3 separate regions of the Homo sapiens genome follow, and all the other regions are linked to region 2. The links come from fine-mapping of genetic effects on gene expression. A gene starts in region 2. Each other region holds a variant in brackets. All regions are shown on one strand. Distances are between the middles of the regions.

Region 1 (7,362 bases), 56 kb after region 2:
ATGAAGGATTTTATGGCATTTGGGACTTTGCAACTGGATCCATCTTTATAGCCCCTTCTGGGACAGCAATGATACCATTTTCTAGCTGAGAAACAAGGAACCCCGGGGGCCCGTCCTGCTAAGTGTCCTGTAGCCTGAGGAGTGGCCTGGGTATAGACTTGAGGCTGGAGCCCGCGTGGCCCATGGCCGAGCACTGGCTGCAGCGGTGGGTGGGGCAGCATCTGGGCTCAGGCAGGCATATTTTCCATTTAAGCTGTGCTGGCTTTGGGTTTTGACTGGTTTTTGTGCTCAGAGGAGGTCCTTGACAATTTTATTTAACTGCACTCTTTAATTGAAAACATCTTTCAGGTCCGCTTTATTGGCTGTAAATGCTGATTAAATTTGGCGTTGCAGTTTATTGTTTTAAATGGATAGCTCTCAAGGGCATTGGGCTCGTGTCCCCACGCACCCTCTGTCCGTCCTCTCCCAGGTCCTCGGGTGATGCTCCCTGTACCAGGTGAGGACAGGCCCTGCTGGTTTCACTGGGGCTACAGCTGAGAATGTTGAGCCATTGTCTCTTTGCTTTTCTGGTGTGATTTAATCTCAGCCTCTTCAGGGTGTCTTTCCATGTGTCCTCCTGAAGACCTGGCCCCCTCCCCATGCCCACCAGCTGGTCTGTGTTTGGGAGTGATCTCCTTTGGGGACGTTTTGAAATGGCTGCCATGGTGCCCCTCTGTAGAAGGTCACCTGGGGCAGTCTGAGTGAAGAACAGGGCGGTGCCAGGTGTAGGCTGAGGTCTCTCGGCCCGTGACCTGAATATGAACTGCTGCCCTTGACCCCTGGGCACAGTGGGCAGTGCCCTCCGACTTCCCTGCCTTCTCCCGAGTGCATGCTTGCAGGGATGAGGAGAGGCAGTAGTGCTGGGGGAGCTGGTCCTCTGGAGAGCACGGTTGCTTTGCTGGCCCTTGCTCCACACAGTGTGATTGTGTGTGGTCACTTTGTCTTGCTGTCGCACTCACTGAGGCCCAAAGGGGTCATTGATGTGACTGAGGGTGGTGGGCCACATGAGAGTCCAGGAGCATCAGACCTGATGCCCACGGCTGGCAGTTTTGCTCAATAGTGACCTGAAATCACTTTCTTCCTATAAGATAATTCTTTTGGATGCCGGGAGAGTGAACCTGGGATCATAATCTTTATCAGTGGGTCCGGGGTGCGCTTGTGCTCTGTGGTTCAAGATGAAAAGGCCTCCCCTGTCACAGACTGAGGTTATTGCTGCTTCCAGGACACACGGCTGTAAAAGGTTCTCTTGTGAAGTTCGTCTCTCCAGCTCTGCTATTTAAACAATGCATTCCTTTGTAGAACCCTCTTCAGTAGTTGATTTTAGAACCTTTATGGAGAGGAAAGATTTCCCCACACTCTCCCCATTGTAAAATCTGGTCAATCATTTATAGCATCGAACTTTGGAGCAGTAACTGTCTTTCTGGCGTGCCCACGCCATGGCTGAGTGTGATGTGTGTTCTGGTTTATGGCCCTGCCTCTGGTGACCGTGGCCTCTTATCTTGCAGGGAGTCCCTGGAAGCACTCCTGCAGAGGGCTGTGGCCCACTGCCCCAAAGCAGAGGTGCTGTGGCTCATGGGCGCCAAGTCCAAGTGGCTGGCAGGGGATGTGCCTGCAGCAAGGAGCATCCTGGCCCTGGCCTTCCAGGTGGGTGAGGGTTGCCTGTGTGGTGAGGGGCCTGTGCACACAGGAGCTGACCTGGGTGCTGACTGGGGCCTGAAAATCTCCCACATACAATGTGGCACGTGCTGTTGTTGGGGTGCACTGGAGTCCAGGGGCTGCTCCACAGGAGCAGGGGCCGTGAAGGGGCCCGAGAGCAGGAAAGCAGCCCACCTGGCAGATACTTACCTCTCGGTCCCCCCACTCAGTGTGACCACGGGTAAATGTTTCAGAACATGGAACACGGGGTCACACAGGCTGAGGGCGCCCTTATGTGAATGGATGTATTCAGACCGCCTCACTGAGCCAGGCCTGAGGGTGCCTGGTTGTCATGAGGGGGGTGTGTGTTTTTTTTAAGTACCTTGTCTTTATTTTCACATATAACATCCTAATAGTTTATAACATACTTTTTAATAAGCTATAGAATGCTATATAAAAGTCTGTTACTGTAGCTCAGGCTAATATCATAGAGTGTGCCCTTCTTTGAGCAAATACCATGAGAGGGGACTGGCCTGGGTTTAACCTTTCGCTCTCAGCTGCCTGTTTGAGATGGCATCACTCCTGTGAGTAACTGCAGCGTCCCCTCCACCTGCCCGCTCTCTGCCTGTCACGTGGCTTCCTTCCACCCGCTCTCTTGGGCGGCTGTGCTGATTGGGACGCATTCAGACAGCCCTGGGCACCGGGCTGGGGAGGCTTTGAGGGCAGAGCCTGCGTGTCCACTGGGCTCTGGGCTGTGTGAGCTTCCGTGGCTTGTGGACGCCTTCTCCACATGTCAGTGGCACCCTGGGAGTCCTCTCTCCTGCCCATGTGGGCTCATGAGGACAGGACAGCTGGCTTCCCTTCATCAAGCTCAGGGGAAAGAGCGAGGTTGCGTGTGATGAGTCTACCAGTATAGGATGCGAGTGCCCCATTCAGGGGCTTTGAGAGGGCGTGGGTGGATCCTGGGTAAGATGGCCCTGCACCTGCCCCCGTTATTGCTCGAGTGCTTTAGCAGCCTCTTCACTGTCCTCACTGTACCAGAGTGAACATGGGCCTGTGTGTTTCCAGGTGAGTCTGGATTCTTGCACTGGAGTCGGCTCTGTCATCTCCTCCCTGGGAAGGGCTTGGACCAGACTAATCCTGTAGCAGAGCAAGGCCTGGCTCAGTTCCTGCCTGCCTGCTTTTGATTAAGTGTGATCAGGCGCTGGTCCCTGTGTTCTGACCCCTCTTGACGCTGCTGTACTTGCCCTTCAGGCCAACCCCAACAGTGAGGAGATCTGGCTGGCAGCCGTGAAGCTGGAGTCCGAGAATGATGAGTACGAGCGGGCCCGGAGGCTGCTGGCCAAGGCGCGGAGCAGTGCCCCCACCGCCCGGGTACGCAGTGGCAGGCAGGGCTGGGCCGTCTGGGGTGCATGGTGTGCACATGCGGGCCCCACGCCTGGCTTGGGTGGTGATGGGAGTGAGATGACGGCAGGCAAACGAGACCACAGCACACTCATCTTTGTGATGTGACTAAAACATTCATGTGGCCGGGCGTGGTGGCCGGGCGCGGTGGCTCACGCCTGTAATCTCAGCACTTTGGGAGGCCAAGGCGGACAGATCACCTGAGGGTGGGAGTTTGAGACCAGCCTGACCAACATGGAGAAACCCCGTCTCTACTAAAAATACAAAATTAGCCGGGCGTGGTGGTGCGTGCCTGTAATCCCAGCTGCTCGGGAGGCTGAGGCAGGAGAATCGCTTGAACCCCGGGGGTGGAGGTTGCGGTGAGCTGAGATCGCGCCACTGCACTCCAGCCTGGGCA[G/A]CAAGAGGGAAACTGTCTCAGCAACAACAACAACAACAAACATGTTCATACGGCCGGGTGTGGTGGCTCACGCCTGTAATCCCAGCACTTTGGGAGGCCAAGGCAGGTAGATTGTGAGATCAGGAGTTCGACACCAGCCTGACCAACTCTGCTAAAAATACAAAATTAGCTGGGTGTGGTGGCTTGCACCTGTAGTTCCAGCTACTTGGGAGGCTGAGGCAGGAGAATGGTGTGAACCCAGCAGGTGGAGCTTGCAGTGAGCCGAGATCGTGCCACTGCACTCCAGCCTGGGTGACAGAGCGAGACTCTATCTCAAAAAAAAACAAAACAAAACAAAAACATATATTTATCCCCACCTTTTGTGTACACAAACAGGCTATGAAAAGCTTACAAAAGTACACACAGTACTGCAGGTAACAGTGTTGAGGATGAGTGTACCATGAAGCACGTACCCTGGAGCTGATGCCCTGCGTGACAGTGCATGTCTGCCCCACAGGTGTTCATGAAGTCTGTGAAGCTGGAGTGGGTGCAAGACAACATCAGGGCAGCCCAAGATCTGTGCGAGGAGGCCCTGCGGCACTATGAGGACTTCCCCAAGCTGTGGATGATGAAGGGGCAGATCGAGGAGCAGAAGGAGATGATGGAGAAGGCGCGGGAAGCCTATAACCAGGGGGTACGTCTCTGCCTGCACCCTGGGGCTGCAGCTGACCCGGCATTCACAAAACTGAGCCCCCTGGTGCAGGGTCATTGCCCTTCGCCTCTGAGGAGATGTGGAGGGCTGGGGGTTACAGCTGATGGAGCTGCAGACTCAGGACCCAAACCCTGGTCCCCTCGCTGAGTTCTGTGCTTTTCCTTATATGAAGCTGCACACACTGCTCAGAAGTGCAGAGTGTGGCACACCTGCAGTAAAGGCTGGTACGTACAGACCTGTGTGCACAGGTCCACAGCACCACCGCACACCTGTACACCCACAAATGCAGAGTGTGAGGGGTGTTTTTCCATGGACATGGCAGCCCTGAGGGACTCGGTCACCCACTGCAGATGAGAAGCTGGGCATGGCTGTGTCCCAGTTCTTCATAGACACCACCTGAGCTGCTCTCTTACTTGTTGGTTGCAGTTGAAGAAGTGTCCCCACTCCACACCCCTGTGGCTTTTGCTCTCTCGGCTGGAGGAGAAGATTGGGCAGCTTACTCGAGCACGGGCCATTTTGGAAAAGTCTCGTCTGAAGAACCCAAAGAACCCTGGGCTGTGGTGAGTCCTGGAGGGGGCAGCCTGGCCTCTGGGCACAGCTTCCCCATCAGGTGGGCCGCCGTCACCCAGCTGCTTGTGTGGAGTCACTCGTGCAGTGCTTCCAGGCTCAGGGGCTTGGGGGGCGGTAGGTGCTGGCCATGAAAAATCACGGTCCCTGCCTTAGGAGAGTTCGGCCTAGGTACTGTGACAGGCCTGTAGATGGTTTGATGCAGTTTAATTTGTGTTCTGATGGAGGGCGCCTGGGAGAGGGAGGGGTTAATGATGGCTGGGACGAGGGAAGGATGGACCCCGGAGAGCCAGCTCCACAGAGGAGGTGGCGTGGAGAGCCCTGGAGGTGGACAGGAGCCTGCTAGGTGCAGGCTCTGTTCATGGAGGTGCTGCGTCCAGCTCAGGGTGACGGGGCTGGAGCACTGTGCAGGCACTGCCGCAGACAGGCAGCTTCTGGGTGCCTTGTGCGGCCCTGGCTCTCCCAGTCTGGTCTTGTTTGTTCTGGATGCCTTCACCTGCATCTGGACAGCGTCAGGATCTGAGGTCTTGCCTTGGGGCGGTTGCCAGTGGGGCTGGCAGGGATGTGGGCCCCAGCGCCTTGTTTCTGTGGTGGATGAGCTCTGCTGTGGAGGGAATGGAGTTTTTGCTGCTGTGACTGGGTGGAGAGCCCTTTCAGACAAGGCTTCCCAGAAGCTACCAGAATATGTGCTGTTGGTAGACGGCTGTGGGACCTCCGGGGGCCTGTCTCCTCAGGTTGGAGTCCGTGCGGCTGGAGTACCGTGCGGGGCTGAAGAACATCGCAAATACACTCATGGCCAAGGCGCTGCAGGAGTGCCCCAACTCCGGTAAGGGGGTGCCCCGACTCCGGTAAGGGGGTGCCCTGACTCCGGTAAGGGGGTGCCTTGACTCCGGTAAGGGGGTGCTTCCTGGCTTCCCAGACTCCGCAGGGCTGGCACTTCCTGAGGGAGTGGGGGCTCAGGCTTCAGACGGACTTTATTAAAATGTGTAGTTTGTGTGAATCATTTCAGTCAAAAGTTTCAGCTATACTCGGCCGTTAAGACAACTTAATGAAATTCTTGGCCTCAAAATGGGAGAATTTGATTTCATTTCTGAAGTGTTATCATTTCTTTTTCTTTTAAAATTTAAAAGAAATTGGCCAGGTGTGGTGGCTCATGCCTGTAATCTCAGCACTTTGAGAGACTGAGGCGGGAGGATTGCTTGAGTCCAGGAGTCCATTGCTTGAGACCAGCCTGGCCAACATGGTGAAACCCCGTCTCTACTAAAATACAAAAATGAGCTGGGCATGGTGGCGGGCGCCTGTAATCCCAGCTACTCGGGAGGCTGAGGCAGGAGAATTGCTTGAGCCCGGGAGTGGGAGGTTGCAGTGAGCTGAGATTGCGCCATTGCACTCCACCCTGAATGACAGAGTGAGACTCTGCAGGGTGTCCAGTCTGTGCCCTCAGGGCTGCCATGGTTTTGGGTGGGCCAGAGTGCTCATCCTTTGTGGTTCTCCTTGCACAAGTTCTGCGAGCCGTGTGTGGGAGGCCCCTGTCGTGGTCTGAGGACGTCCCGGGTTAGAATCTGTAGGCTGGGCACCTTTCCGGAACCAGAGGCTGGAGTGCAAATCTTTGTTCTTTGTTTCTGAATTATAGGTATCCTGTGGTCTGAGGCCATCTTCCTCGAGGCAAGGCCCCAGAGGAGGACCAAGAGCGTGGATGCCCTGAAGAAGTGTGAGCATGACCCCCATGTGCTCCTGGCCGTGGCCAAGTGAGTGGGGCCCCCACAGGATTGCTGAACCTCGGGGTCCTAATGGGCTCTTTTTCCAGAGTCTGTCTGCCTCTTCCTGGTCATTGTAAAGATGCCCGGCAGCAGGGTGGGCTTCCCCGATCCTCGGCTGCCGTCGCTCCTGCTGTGGTCTGGGGCAGGCGCCTCTCCTGGCAGACACACCTGAGGGTGCCGTGGTCAGAGACTCACTGGGGACGCATGTGATTCACACTGGTGCGCTGGCCGCCGGGTCACAGACTCACTGGGGACGCGTGTGATTCACACTGGTGCGCTGGCCGCCAGGTCAGAGACTCACCGGGGACGCATGTGATTCACACTGGTGCTCTGGTCGCCGGGTCAGAGACTCACTGGGGACGCATGTGATTCACACTGGTGCGCTGGCCGCCGGGTCAGAGACTCACTGGGGACACATGTGATTCACACTGGTGTGCTGGCCGCCGGGTCAGAGACTCACTGGGGACGCGTGTGATTCACACTGGTGCGCTGGCCGCTGGGTCAGAGACTCACTGGGGACGTGACTCTGGAACCTTGCAGGCAGCAGCGGGTAGCCATGGGGCAGAGCATGCAGACTCTAGGCACATGTGGGCAAAGACCCGCCAGGTGTGGGGCACAGCAGGGAGCTCAGGGCCATCCCCGACCCCCAGGGTCCCTGTTTCCTTCTAGAAAGAGGATGACAGTCTGGGAAGGAGCTGGGCCTGAGTGTGGGTCAGGAGGCTGGGAAGTGACCATGTGGGGTGAAGGGAGTTCTTGGAAGAACCCTGGGTTCCTGAGGCTGCAGCTCAGGACGTGGGCTCACCTGGCAGAGGTGGCGTGTCTGGCCCCAGGAGCTCTCCTGTGTCCGGCTTCCCCTCCACCTGCCCCGC
Region 2 (6,643 bases):
TGAGCCCCTCAACCTCGGGACTGCAGTGGGAATTCAAGCCACCTGGCAGGGGCCATGCACAAGACCCGTTCTAGGAGCCCACCAACGCGATCCCCCGAATCTCCCGGCACATCAGATACAAAGCCAGGCCACGTGAAGTCTGCCAGGCCAGTGCCCACATCTTGAGGCATAGAGTTGGTACCAGATGTGCAGAGGACAAATCAGGGCAGGGCAGTGGCTGGATAGGGAGACCCCAGCATGAGCCCCACCATGGCCCTGAGGGAGCTCACAGGAATGTCTCGGAGGGCCTGGTTCTCGGCTTTTGGCCGCCCCTTTTTCTTCCCTTCTGTCTTGTCACTGGCTGGACTTCCCGGGTCAAAGCAGAGAGGGGCCTGGCCGGGCACTGTCTGTCCACCACGGACCACCGGCATCCCTGCAGCACACAACACAGCAAGGCTCGGAAGCTGTGTAGCACCGCCTACCACCGGCGGCTGCACAGGCCCACAGTGAGCACCGCTGTCCCAACACGAGGGCACCGGGGGCAGGGGCTGCGGCCAGCTGAGGACAAGAACCCAGGACCCTGGGCTATGTCCAAGGCAACCCCTACCCTGGTAAGGTCCTTGGGAACTCTAGGGGCCTAGCTGGGTACCTGGAGACAGGACGCCCAGGGCAATGGTCCACTCCTACCACTTGCTGCCCAGAACCATCTGGAATTGACTCTGGCCCTGACTCCTCTTACCCATCTTCGGTGGGTCATGCAGCATTGGAAGTCGGACCTCCTTTCGGCTGCCATCCTTCCCGGGACCACTCTTGCTGGACCCCGGGAGCCGACGGCCTCCAACGCAGAAAGGATCCGTCATCTCTGCAGAGCAAGTAGACAATCTGTGAAGCCTGACGGGCCCCACTTGGAACACGTGGTGAGGCTGCCCTGGAGCCCTGCCCTTGGCAGGTCCTCTCTGGTCAGGGAAGAGGGGCCTGCCTTCCTGTGGTTTTGTTCACGTGGGAAAAGCAAGTGATGGGGGCTTCTGACTTAGGGGAGGGGCTGCCAGCCAAGGTCTCCCCAGATAACCCAGGAGTCATCATCAGTTTGATAGGATCTAGTCCTGTCCTGAGACCCTCACCAACTTCCAGACCCCCTTCCCAACACGCAGCTCTACAGTGTACGCAGCTCCACAGTGTGCGTAGCCCCACAGCTGCGAAGATGATGCCGAAGGTGATGCACTCCTACCCAGTGCTGGGAGGGGGTGTGCCCCTGGGAGAGGTGCCTTGCGCAGGAGGAAGGAGGCTGGCAACATTCCTCCAGGGGCCAATTATGTCTCTGATGATGGCTGCTGGCTCACAAGCTGCCCAGGCCCAGCAGTGGGGGCACAGCTTCTCACTGGGGCCCTCATACCTTCCCATGCTGACTTGATGCAATGCCAGCCTACCCAGGCAGGTACCCTTGGAATCTTCTCTCCAGACACAGATGGAAAACAGCCAAGGTGGGCACTGAGGACCCCTGGCCCAATCTGGCACTGCACCAAGCTCCCGTCCCTGTGCCGGCTGAACTATCCTACCTGATGCTCTTCGCAGACTTGTCTCCAGGCTTGGCAGGCTGACCCGCCCCCCACCTCTCTCTGGATCCTCTCAGTCCTCTGCCTACAGACCCACCACTACCACTTCAGCCAAACAAGTCGTGGAAGCACCAGCAGTGAAGGCCCAGGATGCTGGCCAGAGAGAACGCCCTGCTGCCCAAGGCTGGGGCCCCCGAGGGCCTGTGCTGCTGGGAACCCCATCCTGAGAGCTGGGGAGCAGAGGAGACTCTGGGCCCAGCCCTGTGGAAAAGCCACGGAAGGGGGTGGGACAGGAAGCAGGGTGAGGGTTGAGTGGGCAGGTGGCCCCCTCCTGATAGCTTCTAATTAACTTGGATCCGAGGGGATGGGAAGGGGCTGCTGTGTCCAGGAGGGCCAGAGAGCTGAGGTCAGAGGTCAGGACAGTCACTGCCCATTGCCAAGGGGGAGGCCAGTGTCCGGGGACAAAGTTCTCTGGAAGTCCTCACTTTGCAACTTTTGAAAGGAGACAGGGCCGGCATGAGTCATCCCAGCACCTGATGACCCCGGTGGCCTGGGGTGCAGGTGCCTGCTGAGGCCCCACTTCCAATTTTTCTGAAGCCTGGGAGAAGAATTCAGAATAGTGGGGCCTGAGGCCAGGGCCAGCCTGGGAGGCAGAGACGCGACTGGCGCCCCGGATGAGAAGGGGCTTCGGCCCTCCCGAGCCCAGCGGGGACACAGAGCCCTCGCGGGGAGAGGGGGCTCCGCCGCGCTGCGCGCAGGAGACGCCAGCAGCGGGTCCGCCGCGTAGGCCGTTCGGCCCGGGACCCCGGCCCAGGCCTGGCGCGCGGGTGAGCGCGGCCAGGGACGCGCACCTGGGGCCAGCCTCGCCACCCACCTGTCACCTGGGGCCGGGAGCGGGCGCGGGGCGCGGGCCTCGGCCTGGCCGGGCAGGGCCGATCGCGGGCGCGGGGTGGGGGGGCGAAGGCAGTGAACCAAAATGGCGACTTTTTCTGGAGAAGGAGGAGGCAGGAAGACGGCGCCGGCGCGGGGCGCGGGGGCTCGGGCGCGGCGGGGGGCGGGGGGGCTCCGGGCCCGGCCCCCTCCTTGGCCTGCGCGCAGGGTCGAGATCCGGGGCGCGGTGGGCGCCGGGGCTGCGGCCAGAATGGGTCCGGGGCGCGGCCGGGCGCTTACCTGCGGCGCCCAGCGGGGCTGCGGCCGGGCCGGGCCGGGCCGGGGCGGGGGGCGCGGGGCGCGGGGCGCTGGGTCCGGGCGGCGCAGGCTGCGCGCCGCGCTGCGCACATGCGCGCTCCCGCCCCTCCCACCTTTGACAGTTTTACTGCGGGGGGGAGGGGGCGAACTCTCGCGTTATTCCCGCGGCCGCTCCGCGACGGGGAGGGGGCGGGGAGGGGGCGGGGGCGGGGGCGGGGGCCCGGCGCTGGCCTGTGGTTCCCCCGCTCCGCGGTTCCGCCCCCGTCGGCCGGGCCCGCAGTCCAGAGTAGCCGGTTCTGCCGTCCTGGGGCGGGGGACGTTTTTTGGACAGTGGGGTAAACTGAGGCCCGATAGGGGCGCTAGGCACTGCCCGGAGTCCGGCGCGCACGGATTGAGGCGACCTGATTCCGCCGCATCCTGGCCCGCGCGGCGAGTGTGGTCTCTGGGCTCGGGACCCTGACCTCTGGCCCTGGGGGCCGTGCACCGGCAGCGCAGGATTCAGCCTTCTTCCAACTGGCCCTGAGACCACTTTTGCGACTGACCCCCGGAGGTGCCTGGCGGCTTAAGGCCATGGGGTTTTACTGGGGTCACTGACCATTGGGTCACCCTTTCCCAGCTCTGGGGGCAGTGGTTCTGAACCAGTGCCAGGGCCTTCTCTGCCCCACAGCTTGGGCTTCTGCAGGCAGGGGGCACTGGGGTCCGGTGTGGGCTGAGTGGTCTGGAGGTGGCGGGGCACTGACAGCACAGGACTTGGGAATGAATGAGACAGAGAAAGGTTGGCTCTCCTAAAGAGGACTGGTAGGAGGCACCACACGGGACTGGCACAGGACCCACAAGAATCTCCCCCAGGAGAGCCTGCCTGCCTGCCTGCCTGCCTTCCTTCCTTCCCTCTCTTACTTCCTTCTCTCCTTCCTTCCTTCCTTCTTCCTTCCCTCCCTTCTCTTCCTTCCCTTCCCTCCCTCCCTCCCTTCTTCCTTCCTTTCCTTCCTTCTTCCTTCCTTCCTTTTCTCTTTCCTTCCTTCTCTTCTCTTCCCTCCCTCCCTTCCTCCCTTCCTTCTCTTCCTTCCCTTACCTTCCTCCCTCCCTTCTTCCTTCCTTTCCTTCCTTCTTCCTTCCTTCCCTTCCCTTCCTCCCTTCCTTTTCTCCTTCCTTCCCTTCCTTCTCTTCCCTCCCTCCCTTTCTCCTTCCTTCCTTCCTTTCTCTCTCTTTCTTTTTCTCCCCTCCCCTCCCTTCTCCTCCCCTCCCTTCCCCTCCTCTCCTTTCTCCTTCTCCGTTCTTTTTTTATTCTTGAGATAGGGTCTCGCTCTGTCATTCAGGCTGGAATGCAGTGGTGTGATCTTGGCTCACTGCAGCCTCTACCACCTGGGCTCAAGCAATCCTCCCACCTCGGCCTCCCAAGTAGCTGGAACTACAGGTGTGTGCCACCCCACCTGGCTAAGTTTTAAAGTATTCATAGAGACGAGGTCTTTCTGTGTTGACTAGGCTGGTCTTGAACTCCTGGGCTTAAGCCATCTTCCTGCCTCAGCCTCCCACAGTGTGGGCATTACAGGTGTGACCCACCGCCTCTGGCTAGGAGGGCATTTTTTTTTTTTTTTTTTTTTGAGACAGAGTCTGGCTCTGTAGCCCAGGCTGGAGTGCAGTGGTGCGATCTCGGCTCACTGCAAGCTCCGCCTCCTGGGTTCATGCCATTCTCCTGCCTCAGCCAACCAAGTAGCTGGAACTACAGGCGCCCACCACCACGCCCGGCTAATTTTTTTGTATTTTTAGTAGAGACGGAGTTTCACCCTGTTAGCCAGGATGGTCTCAATCTCCTGACCTCGTGATCCGCCCACCTCGGCCTCCCAAAGTGCTGGGATTACAGGCGTGAGCCACTGCCCCTGGCCTTAGGAGGGCCATTCTTACCTGTTCACAGCACCCATCTCCCAGGGAAGGCCTCAGGCCTCAGGAGGGAAGAGTCAAGGAGACTCTGGGTTTTCATCTTGTGCCCATAGAGCATTTTTTTTTTTTTTTTTTTGAGATGGAGTCTCTCTCTGTTGCCCAGGCTGGACTGCAGTGGCGCCATCTCTGCTCACTGCAACCTCCGCCTCCTGGGTTCAAGCAATTCTGCCTCAGCCCCCTGAGTAGCTGGGATTACAGGCACGTGCCACCATACCCAGCTGATTTTTTGTATTTTTAGTAGAGACGGGGTTTTACCAAGCTGGCCAGGCTGGTCTCGAACTCCTGACCTCGTGATCCACCCACCTCGGCCTCCCAAAGTGCTGGAATTACAGGCATGCGCCACCGCACCCAGCCAGCATTTTTTTTAAAACCATGTGCATATATTACTTTTATAATTAAAACAGACTTTTAAAAGTTTCGTAATGCCCCTTTTTGCATACTACAAATATTCTGGACTCCTTAAAATTGATGTGGGCTGGAAGTTGCTAGTCAGGAAATGGAACTACCAGGTGTGCCTCCTTCGCTGGGGCCCTTCCGGCCCAGTCGGCCCCTTTCCCTGTACCCCGTGGAGCAAGCTCAGAGGCACTGCTAGGGGGTTGGGCAGTAAGATTTTTGCCTTTCCTCAAAGGGGCCTGGGATCTGCTTCACTCAAGGCTGGTGCAGAGCACTCACATGGAGATTGGAGGTTGGCTCTTATAGAAGAGGCAGTCAGTCAATCCTTCCTTCGGGAATCTGAGTCAGAGAGGCCAGTGCACACCAGCCTGTGTGACCCGAGGAGGAAGGGGAGGGCATTCCCTGTGAGGCTAGCGTCATCACGTCCTTCCCTTGTTGACCTTTCCCACCCTGGGGACGGGACCAGCAGGATTTCCTGAGGGGTCAGTGTGTGTCCCCTTAGGTGCAGCCAAGGCCGTCAGCTCTCCCTGTGTAAGTCTGGGTGTCCATACATGCGACCTGTTTGGACATTGCCGTGTCAGGATATGACAGTGTCCCATGCTAGGTGAGACCAATGCCTGTCTGTATTTTAGCATCTGGGCGACTAGACCTCAGGGTACCTGGGGACGATGTGTCTGGATTTCAGTATCCATGTGTCCAGGCTGCGGCATGTCTCAGTGTCAGGGTGCTGGTGAGGGACGGCTGTTTTCTGTGAGCATCTACATGCCAGGGTGTCGTGGAATACAGTGTGTTTGTGTGCACCGGGGATGTGCCGTGTCCCATGTGTTTCTATGTGTTAGGAGGTCGTTGTGTGTCTGCATGCTAGTATTTGTGTATTTGTGTAATGACATCTTTGTATGGGGGCATGCTGTTACATACCTTTGTGTCTGTGTGCCTGGCCAACTACATGCATGTGTTTGTGTGTGTTGGTGTTTGCTGGTGTCAGTGTCATTGAGTCTCTGTGTGTGGTTTATGCTCTTATGTGTCTGATTGCTGTGTGTGTGTGGTGTGTGTGTGTGTGTGTGTGTGTGCTGTGATCTGTGTTTGAGACAGGGTCTTGCTCTGTTGCCCAGGCTGGAGTGCAGTTGTGTGGTTAGAGCTCACTGTGCCTTGAACTCCTGGGCTCAAGGAATCTTCCTGCCTCAGCCTCCCAAGTAGCTGGGACTACGGGTATGCGCCACCATGCCTGGCTAGTTTCAAAAGTTTTTTGTAGAGATGGGGTCTTGCTATGTCACACAGGCTGGTCTTGAACTCCTGGCCTTCAGCGACACTCCTGCCTTGGTCTCCCACAGTGCTGGGATTGCAGGCGTGAGCCACCGTACCAGGCCAGATGTTTGTGTTTTATCCCTGAACGTGTGAATGGGATCTTATTGGGAAAAGGGTATTTGCAGATGTGATGAAAGATCTTGTGATGAGGAGATTATCCTGTATTACCCAGGTGGCCCCAAATCCAAGCATCCTTATAAGAGAGAGACAGAGGGAGATTTGAGAGACAGAAGAGGAGGAGGTGATCTGATTACAGAGGCGGAGACGGGTAATGCCCATGCGCCCGA
Region 3 (7,362 bases), 26 kb after region 2:
CCAGGCTGGAGTGCAATGGCATGATCTTGGCTCCCTGCAACTTCCACCTCCCAGGTTCAAGCAATTCTCCTACCTCAGCCTCCTGAGTAGCTGGGATAACAGGCATGCGCCACCACGCCTGGCTAATTTTCATATTTTTAGTATAGATGGGGTTTTACCACATTGGCCAGGCTTGAACTCCTGACCTCAGGTGATCTGCCCACCTCGGCCTCCCAAAGCGTTGGGATTACAGGTGTAAGCCACCACGCCTGGCCTTCTTAGGTGTTTATGGGATGGTCCTACCTTTGGGATTTTGTGAATTTTCAAGCAGTAAATATACACATGTCCAAATGGAGGTATTTAGATCAAAGTAAGATCTTTTTTTTTTATTTTAATGAATTTCTACATGTTTTTATTTGGTGGATAATTGAATTAGTAGACTTACGAATGTATTTATATTTATTTATTTAGAGGCAGAGTCTCTCTGTGTTGCCCAGGCTGGAGTGCAGTGGTGCGATCTTGGCTCACTGCACCCTCTGCCTCCTGGGTTCAAATGATTCTGCCTCAGCCTCCCAAGTAGCTGTGATTACAGGTGTGTGCTACCATGCCCAGCTAAGAATGTATTCATAGTTACCTTAAAATATATTTGATTTGGGCTGGGTGCGGTGGCTCACACCTGTAATCCCAGCACTTTGGGAGGCCAAGGTGGGTAGATCACAAGGTCAGGAGTTCGAGAACAGCCTGGCCAGGATGGTGAAACCCCGTCTCTACTAAAAACACAAAAATTAGCTGGGAGTGGTGGCGAGCACCTGTAATCCCAGCTACTTGGGAGGCTGAGGCAGGAAAATCACTTAAACCCAGGAGGTGGAGGTTGCAGTGAGCTGAGATTGCGCCACTGCACTTTAGCCTGGGTGACAGAGCAAGACTCCATCTCAAAAAAAAAAATGTGTGTGTGTGTGTGTGTGTGTGTGTGTGTGTGTGTATATGTATATATATATATATATATTTGATTTAGCTACTAAGAGTATGGAATTGTTCTTTTTGGTGATTTAATTGAGATGGATAATAAATTTGCTTCAGAACAGACATGCAGTGTTTCTGATGTGTGCATGTTTTATTTCCTAGGGAGCAAAGGGAGAAAGAAGAAATAGAGAAATATCGTATGGAACGCCCCAAAATCCAACAGCAGTTCTCAGACCTCAAGGTGAGCCGATGAAGCGGTGAATGGTGTGCGGTTTCTAACGCTCTCACCCTAACCCGCAGAGACTCAGACTGCTCTTACGTGGAATTTATGAGACTTTACGTTTTTAATTTAGGGGGTCATTGCTTAGAAGAAGAAAGTGTTTGCTTCAGTATGTTTAATTATATGTGTGTAAAAAAAAACCCTTCCCCTACTGTAAAAGGTAGGACAAATGAACTTATTTTCTTTGTAATTTTGACTCCATTTATACCTAAGATTTTCTTTTTTCTTTTTTCTTTTTTTTTTTGGAGGCAGTCTGGCTCTGTTGCCCTGGCTGGAGTGCAGTGGCGTGGTCTCAGCTCACTGCAACCTTCACCTCCTAGGTTCAAGCAATTCTTGTGCCTCAGCCTCCTAAGTAGCTGGGATTACAGGTGCCTGCCACCATACCCAGCTAATTTTTGTATTTTTAGTAAAGACAGGATTTCGCCATGTGTACCAGGCTGGTCTCAAACTCCTGAACTCTAGTGATCTGCCCACCTCAGCCTCCCAAAGGGCTGGGATTACAGGCGTGAGCCACCACGTCTGGCCCCATTTATACGTAAGATTTTCTAAACTGTGTCCCCTGGGCTTTGAGAGAATAATTTACATTTTAGTGAAGTTGAACAGATCCAATAAATTGATTTTTCTTTTCTTTTTCTTTTTTTTTTTTTTTTGAGACGGAGTTTGGCTCTTGTTGCCCAGGCTGGAGTGCAATGACGCGATCTCAGCTCACCGCAACCTCCGCCTCCCAGGTTCAAACGATTCTCCTGCCTCAGCCTCCCTAGTAGCTGGGATTACAGGCATGTGCCACCATGCCCGGCTAATTTTGTATTTTTAGTAGAGATGGGGTTTCTCCATGTTGGTCAGGCTGGTCTCGAACTCCCGACCTCAGGTGATCTGCCCGCTTTGGCCTCCCAAAGTGCTGGGATTAACAGGCATGAGCCACCGTGCCCGGCCTAAATTGATTTTTCTAAGTGAAGTAGAAAACTATTTTTGGGGCTGGGTACAGTGGCTCACATCTGTAATCTCAGCACTTTGGGAGGCTGAGGTGGGAGGATCACTTGAGCCCAGGAGTTTGAGACCAGCCTTGGGGAGAACCTGTCTTTACAAAAAATAAAAACTTAGCCAGGCATGGTGGCCCACGCTTGTGGTCCCAGCAACTTGAGAAGCTGAAGTGGGAGGATCACTTGAGCCTGGGAGGTTGAGGCTGCAGTGAGCTGTGATTGTGCCACTGAATCCAGCCTGGGCAACAGAATGAGACCCATCTCAAAACAAAAGTAAAAAACAGTTGCTGCATCCAAATCCCTTCTAAAGCTTGGTGATCTGGAGGCTAGGGGTGAGAGAGGGCATGGTCCTACCTGGGCACATGAAATTCTGTCAGAGAATTAATGTTTTTGGGGGCTGGATATTTCCAGAGGAAGTTGGCAGAAGTCACAGAAGAAGAGTGGCTGAGCATCCCCGAGGTTGGCGATGCCAGAAATAAACGTCAGCGGAACCCACGCTATGAGAAGCTGACCCCTGTTCCTGACAGTTTCTTTGCCAAACATTTACAGACCGGAGAGAACCATACCTCAGTGGATCCCCGACAAACTGTGAGCTTCCAAAAAAGGGCACATGTGGCCCATTTAGTCCTGTTAGATCAGTGGCAGGAATGGTGGGTGGTGTTGGATTCAATGCTTCTGCAGGTCATGGCTATGCTGTGGCCGAGTCTGTCTGCACAGCTGTGCATATGTCAGGCCACTGGGGAAGTATTTCAGAGAGTAAATTTCTTGGGCATGCAGTGCAAACCGTTGTTTTATTCTTGCCTTTCCTCTCTTCCCCTCCAGCAATTTGGAGGTCTTAACACACCCTATCCAGGTGGACTAAACACTCCATACCCAGGTGGAATGACGCCAGGACTGATGACACCTGGCACAGGTGAGCTGGACATGAGGAAGATTGGCCAAGCGAGGAACACTCTGATGGACATGAGGCTGAGCCAGGTGAGTTTGTCACACAGCATTTTCCTGTGGACAGGTTTAGACAGTTTAATTTTGTTTTGTTTTCTTTTTCTCCTTCTTCTTCTTCTCCTTTTTCTTCTCCTCCTTCTCCTCCTCCTCCTTCTTCTCCTTCTCCTTTTTTTTTTTTTGGCTTGATTTTTGCCTGAATAATTCCGCAGATTTTTAAAATTTTGACCCAGAGTCTTGCTGTGTCACTCAGAGGCTGGAGTGCAATGGTGTGATCTTGGCTCACTGCAACCTCCACCTCCTGGGTTCAAGTGATTCTCCTACCTCAGCCTCCTGAGTAGCTGGGATTACAGGTGCCCACCACCACACCCGGCTAATTTTTGTATTTTTTGTAGAGACGGGGTTTTACCATGTTGGCCAGGCTGGTCTTGAACTCCTGACCTCAGGTGATCTGTCTGCCTTGGCCTCCCAAAATGCGGGGATTACAGGTGTGAGCCACTGCACTTGGCCTTTTTTTAAAATATAAAATAATAATTTTTTAAAAAGTGTGTTTTTTTCCTGCCTCTCAGTAAATTGTCTTGTGGCCCTGCATGGAACGTGTACTTTGATCTGGAGACTAGGTGCTCTAGACACCAGTGAAGTACAGAACTCTTTCTGATATGCATATCAGATACCACGAAGGAACATACTACTTTTGGCCTGGCCAACATGGTGAAACCCCGTCTCTACTAAAAATACAGAAATTGGCCAGGTGTGGTGGCGGGCGCCTGTAATCCCAGCTACTTGGGAGGCTAAGGCAGGAGAATTGCTTGAACCCGGGCGTTGGAGGTTGCAGTGAGCCGAGATTGCACCAGTGCACTCCGGCCTGGGCAACAGAGTGAGACTGTCTCAAAATAAAAAACAAAAACAAAAACAAAAAGTGGCACAATCATGGCTGGCTACATACAGCCTTGACCTCCCTGGGCTAAGGCGATCCTTCCACCTCAGCCTGCCAAGTA[G/A]CTGAGATTACAGGCATGTGCCACCATACCCAACTAATTTTTGTATTTTTTGTTGAGATGGGGTGTCACTAGGTTGCCCAACCTGGGCTGGAGCTCCTGGGCACAAGTGATCTGTCCGCGCTGGCCTCACAAAGTGCTGGGATTACAGGTGTGAACTACCATGCCCAGCCTGAAATTTGTTTACATAGAAATTGTAAAACTTTTTGGGCCAGGCACTCATGCCTGTAATCCTAGCACTTTGAGAGACCAAGGTAGGAGGATTGCTTGAGGTCAGGAGTTCAAGACCAGCCTGGGCAACATGGTGATGGTGAGACTCTGTCTCTACAAAAACTAAAAGAAATAGCTGGGCCTGGTGGTGCCTGTAGTCCCAGCTGTTCGAGAGGCTGAGGTGGAAGGATTGCTTGAGCTAGGGAGTTTGAGGCTGCCATGAGCTATGATCGCGCCTCTGCACACCAGCCTGGGTTACGGAGTGAGACTGTCTCAATAAATAAATAAAACTGTCACAGTAATTTTTTTGTGGTAAAATATATGTAACACAGAATTTACCATTTTAATCATTCTTGACTGTACATACCTTCACTGACATAATTATGTTCATGTTGTTATACAACCTCATCACCATTCATCTCCAGAACTGTTTTCATCTTCCCAAATTGAAACTCCGTACCTGTTAAACATTGAGTCCCCGTGCGCTTTCTCCCCAGCCCCTGGCATCCACCGTTCTCTCTGTTTCTATAAATGTCACTACTCTCTGGATCTTATATGACTGGAATCATACAGTATTTACCTTACTGTGACAGGCTTATTTCAATTAGCTCATGGTGCAGCATGCGTCAGCATGTTCTTTTTTTTTTTTTTTTTTTTGAGACAGAGTCTCTCTCTGTCACCCAGGCTGGAGTTCAATGGCATGGTCTTGGCTCACTGCAGCCTCCGCCTCTCGGGTTCAAATGATTCTCCCACCTGAGCCTCCCAAGTAGCTGGGACTACAGGTGTGCACCACCAAGCCCAGCTAATTTTTTTTTTTTTTTTTGAGACGGAGCCTGGCACCGTCACCCGAGCTGGAGTGCAGTGGTGTGATCTCGGCTCACTGCAACCTCCACCTCCTGGGTTCAGGTGATTCTCCTGCCTCAGCCTCCCGAGTAGCTGGAACTATAGGCGTGTGCCACCATGTCTGGCTAATTTTTGTATTTTTAGTAGAGACGGGGTTTCATCATGTTGGCCAGGATGGTCTTGATCTCCTGACCTCGTGATCCACTCGCCTCAGCCTCCCAGGATGCTGGGATTAGAAGTGTGATTTTTTTGTATTTTTAGTTAGAGATGGGATTTCACCATGTTGGCCAGGCTGGTCTCGAACTCCTGACCTCCAGTGATCCACGTGGCTCGGCCTCCCAAAGTGCTGGGATTACAGGCATGAGCCCCGGCGCCCCGGCCAGCATGTTCTCAGTTTAAGGCAGGATGAGACTTGACTCTTTGGTGTGTGTGGACCGCATTCGCTCATCTATGTAGACCGCATTCGCTGACCTGTTTATTCGCTGACGGACACTTGGACCACTTTCACCTTTTGACTATTGTGAATAATGCTGCTGTGAATACGGGTGTACAGATATTTGTCAGAGACCCTGCTTTCTATTCTTTCTTTTTTAATAAAAATTTTATTTATTTTTTTTTGAGACGGGGTCTTGCTCTGTCACCCAGGCTGGAGGGCAGTGGCGTGATCTCGGCTCACTGCAGCCTCTGCTTCCCAGGTTCATGTGATTCTCCTGCCTCAGCCTCCTGAGTAGCTGGGACTACAGGCATGTGCCACCACGCCTGGCTAATTTTTGTATTTTTAGTAGACACGGGGTTTCACCATCCTGGCCAGGCTGGTCTCGAACTCCTGATCTTGTGATCCACCCACCTTGGCCTCCCAAAGTGCTGGGTTTACAGGCGTGAGCCACCACGCCTGGTCAAAAATTACACTTTTTTTTGTAGAGACAGAATCTTGGGAGGCTGAGGCAGGAGGATTCCTTGAGCCCAGGAGCTGGAGGCTGCACTGAGCTATGATTGCCACTGCACTCCTGCTTGGGTGACAGAGTGAGACCCTGTCTCAAAAAAATAAATAAAAATATAGATCTTGGACAGACGCGGTGGCTCACGCCTGTAATCCCAGCACTTTGGGAGGCCGAGGCGGGCGGATCACGAGGTCAGGAGATCGAGACCATCCTGGCTAACACGGTGAAACCCCGTCTCTACTAAAAATACAAAAAAATTAGCCAGGTGTGGTGGCGGGCGCCTGTAGTCCCAGCCACTCGGGAGGCTGAGGCAGGAGGATGGCGTGAACCTGGGAGGTGGAGCTTGCAGTGAGCCGAGATTGCACAACTGCACTCCAGCCTGGGCGACAGAGCGAGACTCCATCTCAAAAAAAAAAAAAAAATAGATCTTTTTCCATACAGAAGAAATTTGTTATTATCACAAGGTGTTGTCTGAGTGAAATGAAGGCTGTTTTCCTTCTCCTTCTGACTGCTCTCTCAGGGTTGTGGGAGGGGCACCAGGGACCCTCTGAGAACTTTGTTTTGCACCTGGTCATGTCCAGCTGACTCTTAGCTTGGCCTGTCTCACAGGTGTCTGACTCCGTGAGTGGACAGACCGTCGTTGACCCCAAAGGCTACCTGACGGATTTAAATTCCATGATCCCGACACACGGAGGAGACATCAAGTGAGTGCTTTGCAGAATCGCTGGGCTGGGATGGAGACTCTAGTTGCCTAGGGTATTTTGGATTTTATATGGACAGTATGCTGTCAAAATGGGACATGGCGGTTCTAAGAAATGTAAAGTGGAGTAGTTTGTTTTTTCCATTTGAAATGTATCTGTATCCATTCATTGCGTACACTCAATGTGTTACATATGATACTGCAAAGTCCCTGCCTGTGCTGGGCAGGAAAGCAGCTGGCTGTGTCCCACATGTCCCATCTGGACCTTCGGTTCTCAGCGTTTGTCTGCGGGGAGGCTACAGAGGCTTGGAATAGTGCGCACTGAGGTTTTGAGTTGGTTTTTGTAACTCAGGACATCAGGACTGATAGTTCTTACATTGTGACTGTGAAGTGGGTGCCCTCATCCCAGGTCTCGGGTGCACCCCTGACAGCATGGCCTGATGCCGTGTGCACTCTCCCTCTCATAGTGATATCAAGAAGGCGCGACTGCTCCTCAAGTCTGTTCGGGAGACGAACCCTCATCACCCGC

Evidence for each region. PIP is the estimated chance that this variant, and not a neighbour inherited with it, causes the effect.
Region 1: its variant is the best candidate, but not a certain one, in a credible set for the expression of ZNF512B in whole blood (TOPMed, PIP 0.74).
Region 3: its variant is the best candidate, but not a certain one, in a credible set for the expression of ZNF512B in whole blood (TOPMed, PIP 0.67).

The regions. Positions count from the first base shown.
Region 1 is chr20:64,023,011-64,030,372 of GRCh38, forward strand. It overlaps PRPF6 (pre-mRNA processing factor 6), which reads left to right. Exons shown (of 21, transcript NM_012469.4): 14 at 1,545-1,683; 15 at 2,929-3,048; 16 at 3,972-4,148; 17 at 4,593-4,726; 18 at 5,468-5,559; 19 at 6,367-6,481. Among named protein-coding and RNA genes, the nearest start is that of C20orf204, 9.5 kb to the right of the region's middle. The variant G/A (reference allele first, on the strand shown) is at 3,476.
Region 2 is chr20:63,967,112-63,973,754 of GRCh38, forward strand. ZNF512B (zinc finger protein 512B) reads right to left here and starts at 2,819. Exons shown (of 17, transcript NM_020713.3): 1 at 2,703-2,819; 2 at 719-841; 3 at 270-412. The coding sequence starts at 839. RefSeq lists enhancers at 1,171-1,708, 1,709-2,244 and a silencer at 2,927-3,006.
Region 3 is chr20:63,992,303-63,999,664 of GRCh38, forward strand. PRPF6 (pre-mRNA processing factor 6) reads left to right here. Exons shown (of 21, transcript NM_012469.4): 4 at 1,105-1,183; 5 at 2,614-2,790; 6 at 3,025-3,180; 7 at 6,743-6,837; 8 at 7,301-7,362. Among named protein-coding and RNA genes, the nearest start is that of PRPF6, 15 kb to the left of the region's middle. RefSeq lists an enhancer at 7,349-7,362. The variant G/A (reference allele first, on the strand shown) is at 4,143.